Homo sapiens: one gene and its partner. The protein of the gene in region 1 interacts with the protein of each later gene in a biochemical or structural test. Each region holds a gene or a part of one and is shown on either strand. Other genes may lie near its edges.

Region 1 (8,452 bases):
TCATAGTTCCACCTATCGTGACACTACTATCCTGCATAGCAAAGACACATTAATCCCTTCTCCAGAGAGGAGGTACAGTCCTTGAGTGCTATTCACTCCTCTCTCCTCTGATACTCAATAACTTAAATACTATGATGTAAAATTAATACTTAAATACTGCTATAGACTCAACACATGTTCTAAGAATAAGGAGTAAGAGAGGAAAGAAAACAGATATTTGCCTAATATACATGTAAATGCATACAACCGTATTCTGAACAAAATAGGGAGGAAATACTCCCAGCAATTCTGGCCCTTGTTTCTGTAACTGGTCACGTGGTTGGAGCTGGTATTTATTATAACTACCTCCCTCTGTCCTGTTCTGTGTTCCTTTCGTCTGCAACAAGCACCTCAGCTGGCTGTGGTTCTTTAAGTGGCAGAGTGACCCAAACATTCATTCCTGAAGGGTCTGAGTCATTCACAGTCCTGCCTGGATTGTATCCTTGTAATTTCCCATTGACTTAATCACAGGGCATGGTAATACTAACAGATGCCCTAAGGAGTATCCTGTACTCCAGACACACTCTTCCTTGCCTCATTGTGGAGCAGTCCAGATCAATTTCCCCTTGGTAGTCCAGATCAATCTCCACAGCCAACACCATCACTCCCCTCTCAGCCTGCTGACCCAGAGGCACAGGGAGCCCAAAGAAGCCAGGTGGCAGCCTTACCCCCCGTTCAATGGAATCACTGTTGTGTCTCCTGGTAGGAGCATTCCTCTCTCTGGAACCAAGACCTCCAGGCCAGCAGAGCATAAAGTCACAGGAACAGGAAGCAACAATTTCGCTAGCGGGTCCCTAGGGGATATGATGCGCAGTGCCACTCCCATTTCCTCCCCTTGATTCCTGGACCCGTGAATCCTGGCTACGGGAGAAACCAGCACCATATATTGGATGCTGATACAGAGTACATAGAGCCTTTTGAAGACCCCTGACCCAGCCCTACAAAGTATTGTCACCTAGCTGGCATTGTAATTGCAACTTCAAAAGACTCTACTGCCCTTCTTTCAAGTCAGCTGCTTCAGGATGGTGGGGAACGTGGTCATTCCCAGTCCCAGGTCAAAGACTCCGGAGACCACTCGTACGAGTCCCAGAGTCCAAAGGCCAGAGAACCTGGAGTTCTGACATCCAAGCGCAGGAGAAGAGCATCCCAGCTCCGGGACAGAGAGCCAGGATTCACCCTTCTTCCAGGCCCCCGGCTGACTGGATGGTGCCTGCCCACATGGAGGGCAGATCCTCCCCACCCAGTTGAGTGACTCAATTGCCAGTGTCCTCCAAAAACACCCTCACAGACACATCTGGGGCAGCCCGATCATTCTACACAATGTCAAACCACTGGGCTTCCCTGTCAGCAGAAAAGGGACAGGCTCAGTGTGTACTGAAGCATAGAGAATAATCAATGCTTTACCATCTACCTGGGTATTCCTTAATCTAGTCAAGTTGACATCCAAAATCAATCATCACAGGTCCACCCCTTACCAACTGGCACCCATAGGCACCCACTGGCATCTTCTTAAACCATACTTAATTTCCAAATAAAGGCAATAACAAGACCGTAGTTCCACTTAGCATGATAGGCGAAACCAGTGGGCTCGTGCTCACCGGCCAATTCCCTGCACATGATCCCAGTGCCACACTTCCTTGGTTGTGAAGTGAGCTCCCTGGAAGCAGTGCTACACGGACAGCGTGACAGTGGGAAAGGTGTTCTGTCAATCAATGGATGGTGACTTTGGCAGAAGCACTGTGTGCAGGGAAGACGAATCTGTATCCAGAATAAGTGCCTGCTCCAGTAAGGACAAAACGCTGCCCCTTCCAAAACAGAAGTGGTCCAATGTGCCTTCCACCAGGTGCAGTGATCATCCCGGGGAATGGGGCCATACTGGAGCTCAGTGTTAGTCTCCGCTTCTGGCAGACTAGCAGCCAGTGGTAGCCATAGCCAGGTCGGCTTTGGTGAGTGGCAGTCCATGCTGCTGAGCCCATGCATCACCTCCATCTCTGCCACCATGACCACTTTGTTCCTGAGCCCACCAGGCGATGACAGGGGTGGCCAGGGAAAGAGGCTGACGAGAATCCACCTAGGTCATCCTACCCACATACCTCATGTCCTGTGCGCACTCGGGAGGTCTATCCGTGTCCTGTGCGCACTCAGGTCTATCCACATACATCTTCCCCCAATTGCTTTTTTGTTTGGTTGGGTTTTTTGATACAGGGTCTCATTCTGTTGCCCAGGCTGGAGCAATCACAGCTCACTGCAGCCTCAACCTCCTAGGCTCAAGTGATCCTCCCACCTCAGCCTCCCAAGTAGCTGGGACTGCAGGCATGAGCTACCACGCCCAGCTAATTTTTTATTTTTGTAGAGATGGCGGGGGCGGGGAGTCTCACTATGTTGCTCAGGCTGGTCTCGAACTCCTTGGGCTCAAGCAATCCTCCCACCTTGGCCTCCCAAAGTGCTGGGATTACAGGTGTGAGCCACTATGCCAGGCCCCCAGCTTTCTTTGTCACCAATCTTCCAATCATACTCTTTCCAAGTCCCCAAATCCCTGACCATCCAGCCAAATCATCAGGCACAGCCCATGGATCAGTATATAATCACTCATCTGGCCATCTCTCCTTCGAAGCAAGGTGCACAACCAGGTGCACTGCCCGAAGCTCTGCCAGGGAGGATTTCCCTTCACCCCCATCCTTCAGAGGTGTCCCAGCAAGGGGCTATAGTGCTGCAGCTGTCCACTTTCGGGTTGTGCCTTCATATAGTGCAGAGCCATCTGTAGCCATCTGCAAACCAGGCTGACTAAGTCTTCTCTTCCACTGTCAATCGATCAGAGGGAACTCCCCAGGAGACCATAGATACAGGCTGGAGAGAGAAGGCAGTGGGCAAAGTAAGAACCATGGGCCTTTGGACCACTTCCTCATGTCACTTACTTGTGCCTTCAGGACCTGCTCAGACCTGATCCCATATATACCACTTCCTCTCGATGGCAGCGTTCTGCCACACATGCCCAATGTCTGGTTTGGTCGGTCAGATCATAGATAACACCCACTTCATGATGGGCAGCTCAGGTCACATGGCAACTTCGTGGCTGATGGTCAAACATTAAGTCTCTACTAGGGTCCAGTATTAGGCCAAGAGCTGTCTCTCAAAAGGAATGAAGTTATTTGTGGATGATGGCAGGGCCTTGCTCCAAAATCCCAAGGCCTGTACTGCGATTCATCTACAGGGGCCTGCCAAAGGCTTTAAGCAGCCTCCCTGTCTGCCGCTGACCTCAACCACCACTGGATCTGCTGGTGGCCCAAGTGGCAAAGCAGGTTGCACAGCAACCTGGACCTGTTGCAGTCTTCTGCTACGGGCCCCACTCAAAACTAGAAGCGTTAGGGTGACTCAGCAAATGGGCTGGAGTAACACACCCAAATGAGGAATGTGTTGCCTCCAAAGTCCAAACAGGCCCACGAGGCATTGTGCCTCTTTCTTGGTTGCAGGAGGAAAGCTGTAACAACTTATTCTTCACCTTAGAGGGGATACCTTCACAGGCCTGACACTACTGGACCCCGAGAAATTTCACTAAGGGAGAAGGTCCCCGAATTTCAGTAGAATTTATTTCCCATCGCTTGACATGTAAATGTCCTACCAATAAGGCTACAGTGGTTGCGACTTCTTGCTCACTAGGTCCAATGAAGCATGATGACATCAATGTAATGGACCAGCATGAGACCCTTTTTTTTTTTTTTTTTTTGAGACAGGGTCTTACTCTGTTGCCCAGGTTGGAGTAAAGTAACACAATCACTGCTCACTGCAAGTCTTGACCTCCTAGGCTCAAGCGATCCTCCCACCTCAGCCACCCAAGTAGCTGGGACCACAGGCACACACCATCATGCCTGGCTAATTTAAAAAAAAAAAAAATTTATAGAGATGATGTCGGCCCGGGCGCAGTGGCTCATGCCTGTAATCCCAGAACTTTGGGAGGCCAAGGCGGGTGAATCACTTGGTGTCAGGAGTTCAAGACCAGCCTGACCAACATAGTGAAACCCTGTCTCTACTAAATACAAAAAATTAGCTGGGTGTGGTGGCGCATGCCTGTAATCCCAGCTACTCAGGAGGCTGAAGCAGGAGAATTGCTTGAACCCGGGAGGCGGAGGTTGCAGTGAGCCGAGATTGCACCATTGCACTCCAGCCTAGGCAACAAGAGCAAAAAATCCATCTCAAAAAAAGAGAGAGAGAGAGAGAGAGATGACGTCTCACTGTGTTGCCCAGGCTGGTCTCAAACTCCTAAGTTCAAGCGATCCTCCTGCCTCGGCCTCCTGAAGTGCTAGGATTACAGGAGTGAGCCACCGTGCCCAGCCCCAGTATGATATCTGTGGAAGGGAAAGGTGATCAAGATGACTGTGAACTAAACTGTGACATAGGGCTGGAGAGCTGATATACCCATCAGCCCAGACCGCCAAGGGGCATTGCCGGCCTTACCAGCTGGATGCAAACTGCTTCTGCTGGGCCTTATGGACAGGTATAAAGAGAAGGGCATTCGTCAGATCAACAGCTGCATGCAGTAGCAGGGACCAGAGATGTGTGAATTTTGCAGTCACCACTTGGTTAAGTTTACAATAATCCACTATCAGTTTCTAAAGTCCATCTGTCTTCTGCACAGGCCAAATCGGAGAGTTGAATGGGGATGTGGTGGGGGTCACCACCCCCGCCTCCTCCAAGTCCTTGATGGTGGTGCTAATCTCGGCAGCCCCACCCCAGGGATGCAATGTTGCTTTTGATGTACTATTTTCCCAGGCAGAGGCAACGCTAATGGTTTCCACTTGGCCTTTCCCACCATAACAGCCCTCACCGCACAAGGCAGGGAACCAGTGTGTGGATTCTGCCAGGTGCTAAGTATGTCAACTTTGAATCTGGAACCAGGAAATAACCCCAGGATGGGTTCAGGGATCCACGGGAGCCACCAGGAGTCAAACCTAAGCTAAAACTCCATTGATCACCTGACCTCCATAAGCCCCTTCTCTGACTAGTGGGCCACAGTGAGTGATATTTTTGGTTTCCTGGAATCAGTATCAGTTCAGTAACCAGTTATCCCCGAACAATCTAATTATTTCCCTTTCCTCAATACATATTCACTCTGGTAAAAGGTCACAGGTCCCTTTGGGGAAGGCTAGGAGAAAAATTAATAGCATAAACTTTCTCTAGTGTACTGAGGTCCTTCTTCAAAGGGATCCAGCTTCCAATTCATTCATTCATTCATTCACTTATTCATTCACTTATTCATTCATTCGTTCACTTATTCATTCATTCGTTCACTCATTCATTCATTCACTCATTCATTCATTCATGGGGGCTTAGTTGTGTAAACTGGGTTAAGTCTGGGAAGTTGATTGAGGGCTGTGATTTTCTGTTTTAATTATTTTTCTGTTTTAATTATTCAAGTTAGACTTTTTTTCATTTGACCTGTAAGTTTCTGCTTATACAGAAAACTTAAAAGAATCAAGTAACTTATAAGATCAAGTAAGAATTTCACGGGTTTCCTGTCTATTTCACTTCTAGGAACACCATGATTAACTATCCAATGCCATAGATCCACACAAGTCAGACTATTCTGACGGCAGCTTTGCCTCTGCCGTCCATTAGGTAACCACACTCACCTTGCCTTGGATGGCTGAGTACTGCCACTTGGCCGCTGCACTCCAAATGCAATTACTCCCGTTGCATTTAAGTTTTCCATTTGAGTGACTGCGGCTCCCACTGTAAGGGCTGGATCACGGAGCTCTTCAGGGATGCTGGGGCCCCCTCACAAATCTATTTCTCAACGTATGCGTGAAAGATCTGTCTTCTGAACCTTCCCAGTGTGGGTGAGTAGCTTTTAAGAGACAAATCCACTCCAGCATTCCAATGTCCCTAAGCCTTTGAATCCCTAACTCTACATGAAACCTAAGCCTATGAATCCCTAACTCTACATTAAACCAAAGGAGACCCAGAAACTCCAACTTACTCACAGTGGGTCATCCTTTGATCCATGTTCCAGTCAGCCAACCAAACAGATCTCTTCTTAACCCCCTGAGCTACAACATCAAGTGCAGAATCTCCGCTTAGTGGGCCCATATCCATAAATTCGGCCAGATCCAACTTCATGTTCGTTCCACATCCTAATATCCACTCCCACACATGCTCCCTTGGTGTCTGCTTGTATAAATTAGAAAACTCAAGTGGTTCTCTTGGTGTGGAGTGCAGCTCCTCACTCTGACCTTGGAAAGGGTGTGACCAGATTGGCCACACTCTGACTGTCTGGCAAGGTGTGTTCACAACTGGGGCACCCGTCAAGCCCTTGTCACAGGTAGGTTTTTCCAACCCTGGAATCCTATATTCCTACTCAGCAGTCATTTCTCAAGTGTGGAGTTTGCATCCTGATATTTTCTTCATCTTGTGCTCAAATCACCCAATGCCTCCCTAGTTTTCCAAGAGACGCCCAAGGGTGGCAGAGGTTCTTGGATTCCTCCACCCATCGCCTACGCAGTAAACTCAAGAGGGTCAGGCTAAGCTTCAGGTCAGATTCAGAGCTTGTTGACAAACCATTCTCACAGTCACATCTCCTGACACCCAGCCCTGCCACAAATCCCATGCCTGCATTGCACAAGGTCTGGACCTCAATGGCAGGCAAGGCTGGGCTGTGCCTTGGCGGATTCTCTTCCCCATCTCCAAGAAAGGCCCCGAGAGCCTAAGCCTGTTGTTGATGTGGTCTGTCTCATGACCACTGGACTCATTTATTTTTAACGTTGGGCAATGAACAGAACTTTTAAAACACAAAGCAAACAGGCAGCTTCCCAAAGGTTTCAGGGGGTTGGCAGCAGGACAGATCCCCCAATGTGCTGTTGGGTTTTGCCATCCTCCCTTTGTCCAAGCAAGGAAGGAGCCTCAAGCCCAAGTCAGAAAGGACGTACATCTCCCGACTCTTGCCCCGCATAGAGTAACAGTCAACCTCTTTGAGATGTGATGCTTCCTTTAAATGCTTCTTAGGAAGAAGCTACAGATGACCTGACATCTTGTATTTGCTTCAAAATAATCCAGCGTGTGTGTGTATGTGTGCATATATGTGTGTGCATATGTATGTGTGTGTACACATGTGCACATCTTCTGTGAGCATAAGTATGCATGTGCATATGTGAGTATGTGTATGTGTGTGCATGCGAGGTGAGGAAACCTGATCGCTCATTATACTCTGCCTCTAACTTTGGTGTGTTTGACATTTTCCATAATAACAAAAAATTTCACTAAAAAAATGAGCCCATGCTTCTTGAAGAAAAGGCTCAGGTGGTGGAGGTGACAAACTTACTGGTGAAGGGCTTGGGTGCCAAGTCTGGATTCGAGTTTTGGCTCCACCATTCCCTTGCCGCGAGACCTTAGCCAAGTTACCTGCAATCCTCAGCAGAATGGACATGGAGGCAAAACCCACTTCTCAGGGTCCTCAGGAAGCCCATGAGTCAATGCGTCAAGGACTCAGATCAGAGCCAGTACTCGCACGCACCGTGAAACCATGAAACCATTTCCCGCTATTATTATGCTTAGGATTCAAACAAAGTCACGTCCATAAAGCACTCTGTAGCACAGAGCCGGGCACCTGGCTGCCAGTGGAACTTTAGACTGGGGGAGATGTTATCAGATAACTGGGGGAGGGGAGAGCACTCACTGAAAGTCCAAAATCGAAGTCCCTTAGAGTCTGGATTTCACTGATCTAGTGTTGAGGGCTGGGGAGAGGATAACACACCCCTGGGCAGACTGAGGCACACCTGTACCTGACCTTGTGCTGTCGTCTGATAAAATTTTTCAGAACCAAAAGATACACTGAGTCATGCACACCAGCTACAACCTATTTCTCGAGAAAAATTGATACAAAATGCCCAGACGAACTCATGAACACCGTAAGAATCAGAGGTTTCGCTGAATTTGAAAATGCGTCTGCAGGCAAGTTTCCATCCACCCAGGAGGAGGGGCAGGTGCAGGAAGGGAGCACGGCACACACCATGGGGGTGGGAGGGCAGCGCTGGCTTCCACGGGCTAGGCCCCCACCCCATTCCCCAGCTCTGGTGAAGAAATTCAACATCTGTGATGATTCCAAGGGGGTGAGATTCTGCAGCAGCCCAGAGGGACCCACTGAAGGGTGGATCCAGCCTTACTACAGCAGCCCAAGAAACGGCCTCACCCAGCTCCAAAGTGACATCACCAGGGCCCCAGGCAGGCCCACCCCTTCCTAAGAGCCCTGAAACCCACTGATTCTTCCCAGGGCCAGGTCTCTCTTAAGCCGGCATGGCACCCGCCTTGCTCCCTGCTCGGGGCTGTCTGAGCCACTGGGGCCAACATGCTACTGCTTTTGTTTTCTCTGCTGCTAGGGTGGTAGCCAGACTGGAAAAGGAAGACTTGTAAAGTGATTGCCTTA
Region 2 (7,323 bases), on another chromosome or scaffold:
GTGAAACCCGTCTCTACTAAAAATTAGCTGGGCATTGTGGCGCGTGTCTGTAATCCCAGCTACTCGGGAGAGGCTGAGGCAGGAGAACTGCTTGAACCCGGGAGGCAGAGGTTGCAGTGAGCCAAGATCACGCCATTACACTCCAGCCTTAGCAACAAGAGCAAGACTCCGTCTCAAAAAAAAAAAGAACTTCATTATTCTAGGCATAGTAAGTTCAAGATATATAATGGAAAATGAAGAAAGACAGGGTTCTTTCATCAATCTTAAAATATGAATCAAAAACTTATGGAAAGAGTAAGCAGCATTGTTTTTTGTTGATAAACGGGTTTGAGTTCTAAGATTGATTTTCATTGCCACATCTGTGCAGTAATGTTTATACATTAATATTTAATTTATGTAAGACTTTGTTCACTGCACTGGTTACGCAAGACACAAAAAAACAGTTTCAAAAATATAGGAGTTTGGGCTAGGATATGCAACAAAGAAAAATTTAAAGTGCTGATGGAAAACTTAAGGGAAAAGTGTTTCATCCTTTATTTCAAGGAAAGATTGTATATTATAAAAATAAACATTGTTATGCCATTGAGTACAGAGCTCCCATCACAAACATTTAACCATTTTCATCATACATCTGATGATCTAAAAATCAAAATCACTTTGAAAGGCTTAAGTATTCTACTTTCTCTTAAAGATTATCACATTATAGTGACACACTACTGTTTTAAAGACTCAAGTAAAAATGAGACCCAGTAATTTTTAACCAAAAGTGTATCATATCCTATTTGCTTGTTTTATAAGATCAATAAACACTATAGTAAGACTTGGCATTTAAACATTAAACATGTCTAAGCCCCCTAAAGAATATACCAGAAATAAGAAAGACATTTAGAATGCTTTAATATTCCCAGTTAACACCATTTGTATCAGTAACTGCAATGTTGTAAGTTTTAGCATCTCACATAACTAGTCAGTAAGGATTTTTTTTTTAAGTGTAGGAGTGAGAATACAAGGACAGGAGCTATGAGAATGTTAAGTTTTATACTTCTGTTAAAAACTCAAAAATCAAAACTATTTTCTTCTCTGCATCAAAACCACAGACTTGAAGGATGTTTTGGCTTTAATCCCATGACTCATCATCTACTGGATTGGGAGCTTGTGAAGAAGAAAACCCAGCTGTGTTCAAAGTGCTCTTGCCCTGGTAATTATTTAAAAAAAAAAAAAAAGAAACAAACAAACATTTAATTTTATGACAGCTTTAAAGTTACATCACTCAGACTGAGAGCAAGGACTCAAAGTATCTACCATGTCTTCCCCAAATAATCAAAGAACTTTATTCTCACTAAATCTGATTCACCTGAAAAAAGGCTCCTGTCAAATGAGGAAATCTAAATTGCACAAAATGTTTCAAGAAAAATATTTTTTAAGTCAATAGTTTTGACAAGTGGGGAAAACTTAATGCACTACACTCAATGAATCAGCATAAATATTTAATTAACATGCTCATTGTTTCTGAATAAAGGCGGTGTTCAGCCTATAAAAACCTGACATACCAGAAAAGACTTGTAGCCTCGTGGCTGGGCGCAGTGGCTCACGCCTGTAATCTCAGCACTTTGGGAGGTTGAAGCAGGTGGATCACTTGAGGCCAGGAGTTTGAGACCAGCCTGGCCAACATGGTGAAACCCTGTCTCTATTAAAAATACAAAAAAAAAAAAAAAAAAAACCAGCTAAGATGGTGGCACATGCCTGTAATCCCAGATACACTGGAGGCTGAGGCATGAGAATTGTTTGAACCTGGGAGGCGGAGGTTGCAGTGAGCCAAGATCATGCCACTGCACTCCAGCCTGGACAACAGAGCCAGACACTATCTCAAAAAAAAAAAAAAAGAAAAGAAAAAGAAAAGACTTGTAACCCCAACAGGTCCTGTATTTTATATTAATTAATGTTGTCAGAATTCAAAAATTAAATAATTCCATCAGAAGTTTAAAAGATTCCAAATTAAAATTTAAAATCTGGGAAAGGAGACTGTTTAGGCATAAATCTCAAAGTTAATTCCTGACCTTTAAAACCAAAAATATGTATATACATAAAATGTTAATGAAATAATAAAGTAGCTACCTTCCAGGCACGAAAACAATGGCTTGATTATTAAATATTATAGTTACTTCACAATATTAAGCACAACATTTACAAAGAGTAACTAGAAGACAAGTTCTCAAGTTTTCCTTTCTACTAACCTTTCTGGTATCAACTGATGCAAACACGTTTCCTCTTGTACTACCACTGAAGCCAGGAATGTATGTACTAAAGGCAATTTCTTCCAACCATGCAGGAACATCCTGTTGAGCCTTTAAAAAAAATTGACTTCATATGCAACATAAAGTATTAAATATTGGAAAAGTTTACTTGTTATATACACATGCATAAAATGTCTACTTTCAACAACAAAGTAAGAAAACTATCCATTCCATCATAAAAGTTTAACTTACATCTGTCAATACTTTTACTAGAGGCTGTGCTAAATGGTTATCCGATTCAAGATCAAAAAAGGAAATTGCTCTGCCAGTATTCCCACAACGACCAGTACGCCCAATTCGATGAACATATTCATCAATGGTAGAAGGAAGATCAAAATTGATAACATGTTGCACATTTTCAATATCCAGCCCTCTGGCAGCTACTGAAGTAGCAACAAGAACTGGGCACTTTCCAAAGCGAAAATCTCCAAGAGCTTGCTCCCGCTCTCTCTGTTCCCGATCACTTGAAAGAAAAGAAAGCATGTTATTAGAACCACTCTTAAAATCATTAAAGTGAATCATTAAAGTTCAACATACAAATTTCTTTTTAATAATAGTATGAATAGCAGCATTTGGCTGGGCGCAGTGGCTCACACCTGTAACCCCAGCACTTTGGGAGGCTGAAGCAGGTGGATCACAAGGTGAGGAGATCGAGACCAGTCTGGCCAACATGATGAAACACCATCTCTATTAAAGATACAAAAAATTAGCTGGGCATGGTGGCATGCACCTGTAATTCCAGCTACTAGGGAGGCTGAAGTAGGAGAATCACTTGAACCGGGGAAGCAGAGGTGAGCTGAGATCGTGCCATTGCACTCCAGCCTGGATGACTGGGCAAGACTTTCTCAAAAAAAAAAAAGAATAGCAGCATTTAACATTAATGTTCACTTCTTACATACCAGGTACTATACTAATTCCTTCCAAGCTACCATTTTATTTAATCCTCAATATAATACTTTGAGTTGCAAAAATTATCCCCATTTGCAAATGAGGTAAAGTAACAGCTAATATGTAGAGACAGACTACAATCTCAAGTCTGACAAAAATCAAATCCTATTATAATCTCTATGCTTTATAGTCTTGACATAAAATATACAACTACTTGATTAGAATGCTTGCTTAAAAACATATTTTTAAAGTATAATTTCACAACACTATATACTACGTGATATTTTAGGATCTACTAATGAAGTGCCCATAAAACGGTATTAATATGACATTTTAAAGCACTCCAATTTTAAAAAGCTCTAAGAAAGATTAGATTTAGCAAAGGAAAATTTGATAAGGGGCCAGAGATCCTTAAGTGAGATCTCTTGAGAAATTTCCACTCCTTATTTTGAGAGTAAGGCAGACCTTTATCTTACCCACCACAACCACTTAGTTCTAAAAACTAAGAATGAGGATGAAAAATAATAGTTTAGTACTCCTGGGTATTATCCTTTTCCTCATATAAAGGAGAATAACAGTTTAGATCTGAGAGAATTCTGAATCCCAATCCTAGGATTATATCATATTAGTTATATAAACTGATGTTTCTTAAATACCAAATAGAAGTCATTCCCCTAATAGGTAATTATATTCATCTACTCACCCATGAATACTTGTAGTTGATATTTTTTCTTGACAAAGAAAAGTTGCAATAAAATCTGCTTTTTTCTTAGTTTCAACAAAGACCATAGTTCTTTCATCCCCTACAAGACAATGAAATTATTAATATTCAAACTTCAAAATCAGGAAATGAAAAATAAAGCAGGGATAGGAGGCAGTGCTTGAATATGAAACTTTGTCCACCACTGTATTTACTACCAGCACCACAGCCAAGCCTGGTACATAAGAGGGACTCTAATTCCAGAATGGATGTCAAAGACACAGGACTGTTTTCCTAGTTGAGGGATTTAAAAAATTAGCTTCTCTTTCCTCCTCCCAGGCCAACACAAGAAGTAGAACCTTAGGGAAAGGTAAATCATATCTGCCTGCCAACTCTTAGTAATATAAAATTGTCTCAGTCCTTTCCTCCCCTCCATTTCCCTCGCTCTATAAATGTTTTTTGCTGTCTACCTCTCAAGATAATCCAATCTTTCATTCTCCCATGATTGCCTGAGGTGTTTACAATAGTGGCATCTGACCTGGGGCTGCTTAACTCTATATAATTAGTGTTCCAAACATTATCTCTAATTCAAATCCCTTCATTCCCAAAATATCTTACATATTAAAAAATTAAATGACAACCTTATCCCAGGGTCTTAACTTGTTAAGGAATATTTACTCCTTAAAATATTTAACCGGTAGAAATTCAAGCATGGGCCGGAGATTTTCCCACACAGGGAATTTCCCTATAAAATGTTGGAGAAGAAAGATAATTTATAGCTTTAAAGCATATAAAAATGTATTACTGTTCATAATCTCTCTCCCCATTTCTCTGTAATCTCACTTCATTCATTTATTCAGCAAACATTTAGTGCCTACTAGATGCCTGTCATGTTTCTGTTGGAAATGCGGAAATAAAAGCCCCTGCTTTCACTATGGGGAGGCAAATAAATATTACGCATTTAGTACTAAAAAGGAAAAAATCAGCAAGATAAAGGGTCCAGAGATGATTACTTTAGATACTTTAAGACAGGCTTATTAGACAGGCCTACTTTAGATACCCCAATTAGATGGTATCTTAGTAAAGATATAAAGATAGTGAACTGTGCAGGTATCTAGGAAAAGAGCTTAAGGAAGAGTGAAAGACAAGTCTAAGCCTCTGAGAAATGCATTTTTTTTTTTTTGAGACGCAGTCTCGCTCTGTTGCCCAGGCTGGAGTGCAGTGGCGCAATCTCGGCTTGCTGGAGTGCAGTGGCACAATCTCGGCTCACTGCAACCTCCGCCTCCCGGGTTCACGCCATTCTCCTGCCTCAGCCTCCTGAGTAGCTGGGACTACAGGCACCTGCCACCACACCCAGCTAATTTTTTTTTGTATTTTTAGTAGAGACGGGGTTTCACCGTGTTAGCCAGGATGGTCTCAATCTCCTAACCTCGTGATCCGCCCGCCTCGGCCTCCCAAAGTGCTGGGATTACAGGCGTGAACCACCGCGCCCGGCCCCTACGGAAGTATTAACACATTAAATTACAAAGTCTCTTAAAGGAATTCTATTCAAATTTGTTTATAAAGATGAATAAAAGAGAAATGTTATCAAGGTAAATATTCCTAAAATCTCAGAAAGTAAAGAAATTGAACTTGCACTTTTGAAAAATATACTTTAAACTATATTAAACTTTTGAAAAAACGTATTACAAGAATCAGAATCATTTTAAGAATCCAAGTTTACATAATTAAGTGAAATCTTTGGTAAATGAGACTAATACCTTTAGTTTAAAAAAAACCAAAACATCTTCTCCCTATTATCAGTGTAAAGCTTAATACACTTACTCTACTTGGGTTTGTTTTTCCTAATGTATAGAGGTTTACTAGCCAAATAAGCTAGTATTATTCCTTCATGATGTTTAAGAGTATGAAAACGGAAATCTGTGTTCAACTAAATTTAGTCATTTATTCAACAGTATTTATGTTTTGAAAAACATCATCTTGAAGATAATTTCCAAAATCTTCAGGTAACTGAAAACAGTAGACAATGCTTGTGTATGACATCTCCCAGTTTCCCATCTCCCTGCTCCCAATTTCCTTTATGAAATAGAAGTTACTATGATTAAAAGATATAATTAACATAAGTGGTTGCAACTACACTAGGAATAACAGTGACAGAAATAAAAACTGTAATTGCTTTTGCTTCAAGGAAAAAAAGTAGTTTAGTGGCTTTCAAACATTTTGGTCAGTGTTACCTTTAAACTCATAAAACACTGACAATCCTGGAGTTTTTCTTGTGTGTTTTGATATTTACCATATTAAAAATTAACACCAAGATAATCTTTATTTGAACAATATTTGCATATTAAAATAAATAATTCTTAGTATAATCATGAAAATTATTTTTACCTTGCAGACCCAATTAGGGGATCTTAGAGAACCTGGGGGAGACACATTTTGTCCTAAAATGTCAGTTTGTTCCAGAAAACTGAAAAAGCACAATGAAAGATAAAACTTGGAAACTGAATTTTATCTGCTTTGATTTAAAACACTTGGGTTAAAATAAGCTATAAAAGGTGTTAATATTCTAGCAAAGGTCACTCAGTTTGTATGGAATTACTTTCTTAATTTACTGTTTAATGCTTTCGCTTATGAGAGTTTTTTTTCCTCAGAGCCATTACACTGGATAAAAAGTTATTCTTTACCTTCCTTGTAATCAGCCTAGACAGCAGAGATTCTGTTGACTTTATTAGGTCTGTTTAAAAAAAAAAAAAGACTAAAGAAGGGAAAAAAAGAAGAAAAAAAGACTAAAGAGAAAAGGTTCCCTATTTATGAAAGAGCTGTGGTTATTTACAACCATGTCACTTTCTATGTTTACTTCTAAATGTTTTGTCACTTCAATTAAATTGATAACCAAATAGTTTTTCTGATACCCACGAATCCTACACTAATCAAATATTCAACTCTCCTCTGACAACTCCTTTTGTCTTTTTAAGATCAAATTAAAAATTTAGAAGAAGAAATTCACCCAGAAAACTTTTGAGATTTCTCAGAGAGAGCCCCAGGAAAAGCACAAAGGTTTATTATTTCATTATAAAGGAAGGGATTCTAGAAATTATTTTTTTTAGATGTATTACTATTTAAGAGTTGTATGGTAAGAGTTGTCAAACCAGAAAAGACTACACTTTTCCAAGATTAAAGAGAATAGATAAAATGTTAATACACGTTGAGCATTCCTAATTTGAAAATCCAAAATCCCAAACTCTTTGAGTACTGACATGATGCTCAAAGGAAATGCTCACTGGAGCATTTCAGAGTTTTGGATTAGGGATGATCAAGTGATAAACGTACTGCAAATATTCCAAAAGTTAATTAAAAAAAATCCGAAACATGGCTAGGCATGGTGGCTCATACCTGTAATTCCAGCACTTTGGGAGGCCAAGGCGGGCGGATCACCTGAGG

Evidence for each region. The genes of interacting proteins can lie anywhere in the genome.
Region 2: the proteins of SPSB1 (region 1) and DDX4 interact in a test that uses a peptide from one of them, tested with the Homo sapiens proteins (one study listed by BioGRID).

The regions. Positions count from the first base shown.
Region 1 is NC_000001.11:9,295,275-9,303,726, reverse strand, and holds part of SPSB1 (SPRY domain-containing SOCS box protein 1), read right to left. Parts: intron 1-8,452. UniProt on the Homo sapiens protein: Substrate recognition component of a SCF-like ECS (Elongin BC-CUL2/5-SOCS-box protein) E3 ubiquitin-protein ligase complex which mediates the ubiquitination and subsequent proteasomal degradation of target proteins.
Region 2 is NC_000005.10:55,810,335-55,817,657, reverse strand, and holds the end of DDX4 (probable ATP-dependent RNA helicase DDX4), read right to left. Parts: intron 3,986-7,323; coding exon 3,886-3,985; intron 2,758-3,885; coding exon 2,487-2,757; intron 2,346-2,486; coding exon 2,235-2,345; intron 1,196-2,234; coding exon 1,118-1,195; 3' UTR 501-1,117; downstream 1-500. UniProt on the Homo sapiens protein: ATP-dependent RNA helicase required during spermatogenesis. Required to repress transposable elements and preventing their mobilization, which is essential for the germline integrity.